Homo sapiens: one gene and its partner. The protein of the gene in region 1 purifies or fractionates together with the protein of each later gene. This does not show direct contact. Each region holds a gene or a part of one and is shown on either strand. Other genes may lie near its edges.

The links. Proteins that work in one complex are often made in the same cells at the same time.
Region 2: the proteins of CCDC92 (region 1) and SERPINB4 purify together in Homo sapiens (affinity purification with mass spectrometry; 3 studies listed by BioGRID and IntAct, with this or other methods). This does not show direct contact.

The regions. Positions count from the first base shown.
Region 1 is NC_000012.12:123,941,001-123,946,344, forward strand, and holds part of CCDC92 (coiled-coil domain-containing protein 92), read right to left. Parts: exon of another isoform or gene 4,704-5,344; intron 3,741-4,703; exon of another isoform or gene 3,669-3,740; intron 3,365-3,668; 5' UTR 3,306-3,364; coding exon 3,272-3,305; intron 2,494-3,271; coding exon 2,347-2,493; intron 1,786-2,346; coding exon 1,744-1,785; intron 1-1,743.
Region 2 is NC_000018.10:63,639,008-63,642,178, reverse strand, and holds part of SERPINB4 (serpin B4), read left to right. Parts: intron 1-290; coding exon 291-419; intron 420-1,187; coding exon 1,188-1,305; intron 1,306-2,402; coding exon 2,403-2,545; intron 2,546-2,838; coding exon 2,839-2,994; intron 2,995-3,171. UniProt on the Homo sapiens protein: May act as a protease inhibitor to modulate the host immune response against tumor cells.

The sequences.
Region 1 (5,344 bases):
GAGTACTACATCAGGTGGGTGGGTGGGTGGGCAGGTGGCCTTGGGACCTCAGGTTGAGAACCGTGACTGGAGAGGCCACAGGGCAAAACTATGCTGCTTCAGATTAGCCTGGGCCAGGAGAGGACAGGGAGCGAGGACGCCCTGGCTTCCATGACACGGGTAGCTCCTTTCCCAAGGCTTCAGTGCTGGCAGGTGTGGACGCTGGAGGTCCCTAGTGTCAGGCTGAAATCCTGTTCCTCTGCATTCCCACAGGCCCAGCTCCCAGTCCCAGGGCTTCGGGGGAGGTCCCTGGTATCCCTCCACAGGGAGACTTCTGAGGACAGGCTCCCATTCCACCACCCCAAGAAGCCCACGGCGCCTTCCCTACCACACGCAGACAAAAAGATGTCTGGGCTCCTGGGTGGCGCACTCAGGAGGCTGTAATATGAGCAATGCAAATGGAAAAAAATCAGTGCTCGGTAATCCACTAAGGCTTGGTGGAAATGGTCTGTGTCTTTTACAAGGAACTGGACACTCTCATGAATAGTAACTGCCATTGTGAGGCCTGTTTAGAAAAAGGCATTGTGGGGAATGGAGAAGTTCTTCAAAGTTTCTTGAAACCATAAAGAGCTTGTCATTTCCTTGCTCTATGTATATCTCTATATATGTTCCAGTGTAGCTGCTCCGCCTTGCCCCGGCACGCCTGCGCAGGGCTGAGCGAGCCCTGGACCATAGTGCATGCTCTTCCTTATTTGGAAACTCTCCTGACCCTCTCATGACTAGCTTCCTCTTTTCTTTGTCCTCTTTCCCTTTTGCCTATTTAGGAAAGTTTCAAGCTGTTAGCCAATCGGGTCAAGCTTAGAATGTGAGGTCCCATTCCAGTCAATGGAAACTGGACACAGTCATAGGGCAATTGCATCAGGTTATGAAGATTATAAATGTCCTCGTCTCCTTTGTTTGAGTGTGCTCTCGTGGTAAGACTGCTGGCGAGTTGCACCCTTTCTGCAGAAAGTAAACTAGCCTTGCTGAGCCATCCATTGCCTTCCCGACGTGATAAACCCGTTTCCAACAGGTGTCTCTGCACAAACATGGATTCAGCACTTTCCAAACACCCACCCTGTTTTAGGGAGCAGGCTCTTTGCAGCAGGCACAGAGGGCCCTGGGAAGGCCTGGGTTTCTGTCTCTTCTCTGGCGGCCAGCAGGCAGCTGCCCTTTGGGGTTTCCTGAGGTCCTGGAGGATTCTGGTTTGGGGAGGGTTCTGGGGCTGTAGTCCAGAGAAAGCCCCAGATCCTCAGGGAGCTGTCTAGTAATGTGACCACTCGCCCGCCAGCATTTAGCAAGCTGCTGCTCTGTGCCAGGCCCATGCTAGGCGGCAGCGACACGGAGGAGCGGGGGCGGTTCTGCCCAATGCTGCTGCTGCTGTTACTCCTCCTTTTGGGTTTAACTCACGTCTATTTTTATGTCCTGATTACACAAGGAACACATGTTCATTGTAGGAAAATCAGAAAAACATATAATAGGCATTCCAAATATATGTGTCATTCAAAAGAAAACAAAATCACTCATCCCCCTGCCCACTAATAACCACTTGCAACACGGAGGGATCCAAACATCCTTCTCATCTTCTCTTAGAGAGCTCAGGCCACACGCATAACTCTTCCCAGCAAGAGCATTTTCTCCTAAGTGTGTGACTAGTGAAAACGGCACCAACACGTACCACAAAGGGAAACCTACTGTCATTTACTTCTGGGGAGGAGTTCTTACCTGTCTGTTCCGAACTTTTGACTGTCAGCTCATATGTTAAATCTAAAAGGGAAATGTTACACATTAATTCTTTTACTGTACATTTCAAAATCTTCATCAGCTTTGAAAATGCAAAACCGATTCCCACGATTAGCCAGCGAGTCCTACCCAGACAGAGCAGGGTTTGGCAGCAGGAGAGGTGAGCATGAGAGCAGCAGAAAACATCTGCGGCCACTGTGCTCCCTGGGGTCAGAGGGCACCCTCTGTTCCCCCAAACTCCCTTCCCCATTCCCCCACAGCATATCCCAACCATCCAAACCAAACAATCCAGCAGCTGGCTCTATGTATCACACAGGCTATATCTTGGTTATCAGTTCCAAAACACATTGGAGATTCTAACCATTGTATTTTAATCTCTTAAGTCCTCAGTATGCCAAGAAAAGGCTTTGCAGCTTTATGCTTAGTGCATCTTGATTATGCAATGAGGATGATATAAGGCATTCAGATGGACTCCTGCAACGATGATGGGAGCTGGGGGCAGGGCAGGCCTAGCACATTCTGACGCTGGGCTCTGCCGTGCCCCATAGCCGCCCCCCGCCTGCCCGGGCCTGCTCCCCGATGTACCTGTGCAGTGCTGCTGCAGCCGCCTGATCTCGGAGTGCAGCCCCTTGAGCGTGCTGGCATGCTCCCGCTGAAGGAACAGGAGGTTCTTCTGTGCGCTGTGCAGCTGGTTCTCCAGGTTTGTGGCTGCCATGCTGACATCCAGAGGACCTGTGGGTAACACAGACCCTGGCTGCGGTGCCTGAAGAGGGTCCCAGGGCTGCCTGCCCTCCTTGGCTCTGGGTGCAGAGGGGTGTGCGCCTCCCAGGAGAGAGCAGAAGGAAACCACGGCTCCTGAAGGGCAGGGTGTGGGGGCACCAGGGCTACATTCCCATCACTGCAGGGAGGCCCCAGGCCAGGGACGGCAGCCTCTGCTTCCCGAACGCCTTGGGGTGTGCCCTAGCACCTAGCACGATGCCTGGCACATGAATGAGTGAGGCCCACTCCAGAGTACAAAGTCATTTCCCTTTACTCATGAGGAAACAGATCAAGAGAGGCAGATTCGCGAGCCTGGGGTCACACAGCCAGTGAGGTATGGAGCAGGGATTCTAATCCAGGGACCCTTGGTTCCAAATCCTGTCCTCTCCACGCACCACCTCACCCCAACAGACTGTGACTGACCAAATCACGCCCAAAAGATTTCCCTGACCAGGAAGCACTGACAGCTTCCTCATGGGAAAAGCTGGCACCTGGGAAATGGGCCAAACATTTCCTCTAAATGGCATCTGGAGCCAGCCAAAGTAGGAGGGAGAGATGGGCTGAATTCCAGAGGGAAGCCCCCTGCACTTCACAGCACTGAGAGGAGCCACAGATCCTTCTTGGGAAGGTCTGAGAACGTATCTCATGGGGCCAGGGGGTGGTGCAGGTGTCTGGAGTCTGTCCCCAATGCTTGGCCCCTCCCAGCCCCAGCTTCCAGCATCTGATGCTCACTCAGGGCCCCAGACTCTACCTTCATCGTAACTCGAGAAATGTGGTGAAGTCATGGGTCTTTCTGGAAAAGCTACCAGAGTAATTCAAGACGCTTGTACAGCACTGAAAAATACTGAGGATGAAATGTGAGTTATTTGCTTATAAATTATTATTGTAAATACAGAACCTCAGAATGCATTTTCCCTAATTTGCTATTCCAGAGAACCCTCCGTAAAGGAGGTACAACTTCTCAATGGCTCCCAGGACGCAGCCCATTTGTAGGATGCCACAGTGGAACCGTTTTGGAGACACTGACACACCCAGGCTGTCACTGCTTCAGACGACACCAATTGCTCATCAATTATCTGTACGACCAGTGACATGCATGCACACTAGCTCTGGAGCTAGGACGAGTTCATAACGAACTTCAGACATACACTTTCATCACACGAAAACACTTCCTGGGCGCTGCTCCGGTGGAAAGCCACAGACTCCACTCCGAGGGCAACCTGAGAACGCAGAGAAGGAAATAAAACACGACGGAGCTCACGAAGGGGAATGAACAATGATACATCCTAAAAAGGACCAAGAAAAAGAGAAACAAGAGGCCCTTTCAGTTGGGGACAAAAACTGGCAGGAGAGGGCAGTGGCCCCAGGACACGGCAAGTACAGTCTCGGGGGGCACCTCACCACGGGCAGTGATTGGGCAGAGCTGATCAGAAGCCTTGGAATTGGTCATCTCTCTGAACTAGCAATTTATTTTTAGAAATCTACCAAAGGGAAATTATTACTTTTGTGTGAAAAGAGGTAGCTGTGAGAATGGTCACTACAGTGCAGTTTGCAGTTGGAAAAGACTAGAAACAAACTCAAAACCCGACAATAGGGAGTGGGTTAAATAACTTAAGGCGACCATTTCTAGGCATGTTTCTATAAAACAAAGCATAGCTCTCCCTGGCCTTTGACTGCCGTCGCACTGGGCTGCAGATGATGGCAGAGTTGAGTTTCCATCAAGCAGGGCTTTCCTCAGTGGAGCCGTGAGCAGCATTCCGGCAGGAGTGAGAAAGGATGTTTCTGTCCCCGAAACCGTCTCTGTGCTGTAACCGCAAACTCTCCTGTGTAGGCTGCTGGGCCAGACACTAGTTTCTAAGTGGAACCCCACAGTTCCCGAGATCCCAACACTGTCTGCACAGCACGTGGTCTTGGGGGGCGCTGACCTTAACAAAGGAGCCAGCTACAACCAAGGCAGGTTCAGCGTGTGGCACACGTGTGCCGCGTGCTTGCTGTGGAAAGGGTGAGCACCTTCTGACCTTGCCCTTCCCTCACAAAGCAGAACGCTTGAAAGCGGAACAGCCTCAGCGTCAAAGGAAGGAAAATCCCAGGAGCGCCTGAGAGCTGTCAGTAGCGGTGCCTACGTTTTCCTTCCACTCAGCAATCCGGAGTCGTTCACTCTGGCATCAATTCCAGCACCTCACCTGGAGGCTGAATCCCGAAGAGCTGAAAGGGGTTTGGAAGTGGGAACTCTAGCAGAGATGCTTTCAAAGGACAGACTCAAATCCAGGATTCTGTTGGCTGATGGAAGAAGCAGAGCCCATATGTTAGTGGCTTGCTGTCAAAGAGAAAGAACCATTTAAATGTGATCCAGAATTTAGTGGGTCTTGGATGACAGGAGAGCTGCCCTAGGCCTAGTGTCCTACCCCTCACAAGCACTGTCCCCAGCTGCACAACCTGGGGGTGGCCTTGACGCTGGCATCCCCCGCCATCCATTTCCAGTCCATGATGATCTTGCTGGCATCCTGCTTTGAAAGCAGCTCTCAGATCCGTTCAACTCTCCCCGTCTCCGCTGCTGAGGCCGTCCTCACCCTCACCCAAATCCCTGCCAGAAAGCCTCCCTCTGTCCTCTCCTACCTGCTCCATTCTGCTCTCCACGTGGCAGCAGAGTGATCTTGTTTTTAAATTGAGACTACTTAAAAACCTCCAATGGTTCCCACTGCTCTGAGAATCAGACTGGTCTGCCCGGCCCTGCAACTGGCCCCGCCACCCTCGCTGGCCCTTCTCCTACCCCCAGGGCTCCAGGTGGCACGAGCTTTCCTCCGGGTGCCCTGCTGGGCTGTGC
Region 2 (3,171 bases), on another chromosome or scaffold:
TAACCCTTTAAACCAACAAGGAGAAAATCTACTGGTAGACAGCGCTGCATCTTTAGTTCAGAAGAGAAAAGATTGCAGTACGTTAGAGCAAGAAGAATTTTCTGGAAGAAGTCAAATATAAGGTGGATTTTGAAGGGTATTTGAGGTGAAATACACCAATTATCAGGGAATAACATCAAAGGTCCTCAATGAGACTACCAGCATTTAGGGACTGATCTAACAGACTTAGCATGGGTTTAGTATTTACATTGATACAGCAATTGAATGATCTCCCTTTTTGATGTTTGAAGGTTGATAGGTCAGGAAATGTTCATCACCAGTTTCAAAAGCTTCTGACTGAATTCAACAAATCCACTGATGCATATGAGCTGAAGATCGCCAACAAGCTCTTCGGAGAAAAGACGTATCAATTTTTACAGGTAATTTCACCTGGCCTACCCACATTTCATTTGCATCCTGATGTCTGTGTCTCTGAGTGGCCAAATGGAAGAAAGCAAGGCAGATGAGCCTGGCCGACTCAGGTGGAGAGCATTTACTCAGAGTGCATTAGCTCCATTTCCACAACTCTCCCCCACTGGAGTGTCCCAGACCCCAACGATACATCACTGAAGTGTGGATTTAGGGATAATCTTGTGATAAAAGAGGAGGTTGTGTAATAGAGTGAGTAAGAGTAATAAGTAATAAGATACCATCGATAAACTGGCACTGACTCAGTCACATACGATACATCTTGGTGGGAAATGTATGACTAATGGGATATTATTGGAATGGGCAGGCTTGGGTGAGTTCCTGAGAATAGTTGAGGAAGTACCAGGAAATATTGAATGCACAGGATGAAAGACAAAAACAAAGATCAGAAACATCATGGTTAAAATTACTGGAGAGAAGTCTGAGAAGCAATGAATCTCCTTCAGGGAAGCCTGCTCTGCAGTTTGCAAACCACAGCCTCTTCTGCTTCTGCCTTTTGCCAAGATGATATTGACCTTCAGTGACCTCTTTCTTGTGCCAGCCCACATTCCCCTTTTGCATTGCCTACATGACACCTGTATAAAAATATCCATGGACAGGAGATACTGCATCTATTCAGGGTCTGGATTCAGCTTACTGTTGTTACAAATAAGTAAGTTTGGTAATATATAGTTACATAAATTACTCCTAATTCCTACTTCTTCCTTCATATCTCAAAGGAATATTTAGATGCCATCAAGAAATTTTACCAGACCAGTGTGGAATCTACTGATTTTGCAAATGCTCCAGAAGAAAGTCGAAAGAAGATTAACTCCTGGGTGGAAAGTCAAACGAATGGTAGGAGAGCCACCCATTATAGAAACACCTTTGAGAAACCTATGCCAGTGAGCCTTGTGCTTGACACTGCATGGGGGAACAGGTGTGGGGATTGAGATGGGTTTGCAGGGAGGGCTGAAGAGGGCACTCCAGATGAAGGATTTGTCCAAATGAATATGAAGAGAGCCTAGGGGAGCCAAGGAGGAAATCACAGGAAGCCAATTAGATGGAAACACATCTGGAGAATTATTTGCTTATGGCCCTGCATGACAATAGCTTTGTGGATCCCCTGTCTCCGCTCAGGCCTATTTTGAGATCATATCCTTTACTTTAAATCAGACTCAAATTTTTATGATGAATATTTAATAGAAAACATTAGAAAGCGTCTCTCGTCTCCTTTACTAATTGGGAAACAAGCAGCTCTCTGGTAAATCACCCTTTTGTCTCTGAGCTGGAGCTGCCTGGATCACATCTGTAGCCAATGTGTTCTGCAGGGATTATCACAGCTCTCTTCCCCATCAAGGGCAAAGAGCTTGACAAAGTCTCCATTCTACAGACATCTTTCTTACCTCCCACCTCTCATTACAGGCCAAACTTACAGCAACTCAACATGAGAGTGAATAGGAAGATACCCCCGGAAGTAGTGTCTGACAGCACAGGACATGCGTTTCATATTACAGAGCTCAAGTCACTCATCCTAAAATGCAATCAGGGCCTCCTTCCTCTGAATGGGGACCCCGTAGTTAAAAAAAAATAAAAGTAGGAAGAGGAGGGAGGGAGAAAGGAAAGACACATGTTGGAAGAGTAGACAAAATCAGTTTATCAGTATTCCAAATCAGATGATTGGAGACATTCATACACAGAGAACGTGAACTCCTTCTCTATCACAAGAAGTGATGTCTCCATCAAGGGTAACTTTATACGACTGGAGCCTTGAAGAAAGCTGCATCTGGTGAACCACTGGTCAGTGAGTCTAACAATTCAAAGATCAAAGTCAGTGAGTCTCAAGCAGGGATTTGGGTCAATAATTAACGATCAGTCACGAACATTTGCAAAGCATCTTCCAGACAAGCCATTTGTAGCTTGTGTAAAAGACTCTTTTATTCTTTCCCTTGCAGAAAAAATTAAAAACCTATTTCCTGATGGGACTATTGGCAATGATACGACACTGGTTCTTGTGAACGCAATCTATTTCAAAGGGCAGTGGGAGAATAAATTTAAAAAAGAAAACACTAAAGAGGAAAAATTTTGGCCAAACAAGGTATTGTCTATATTTTATTTATATAGTGTAATATGTTAATACATGGAATGTTAAACATTTCTGATGGAATGTAACATGATAAGTAAAAAATAAAAATTGTTCATGTCTGTTATTTTGTTGTTTTACTCTTATAACTTTATTTAGTTAGGAATACCTGAAAAACTATTGTTTCTAACTCATGGAATTCCTGGGTTATTTCTTAGAAGAAGAAGGATGTGTTGCTATCTCAATAATATTATCTTTTTTGTCTTGTGTTTCACGTGTTATTTGTTGGACACATTGATTTATTGCAGAATACATACAAATCTGTACAGATGATGAGGCAATACAATTCCTTTAATTTTGCCTTGCTGGAGGATGTACAGGCCAAGGTCCTGGAAATACCATACAAAGGCAAAGATCTAAGCATGATTGTGCTGCTGCCAAATGAAATCGATGGTCTGCAGAAGGTAAGAACTTGCATCTACAACTCTTCCTTCTACTGCCGGACATTTTTCCAAAGATACCAAGTTTAAACAAGGTAAAAGCTTATGACCGAGTTGCCTCAAAATGATGAAAAATTCTAAATGAGGAATGATGACTCACCTTCATATTACAAATATTTGAGCATAGGGCCTGACACAAAC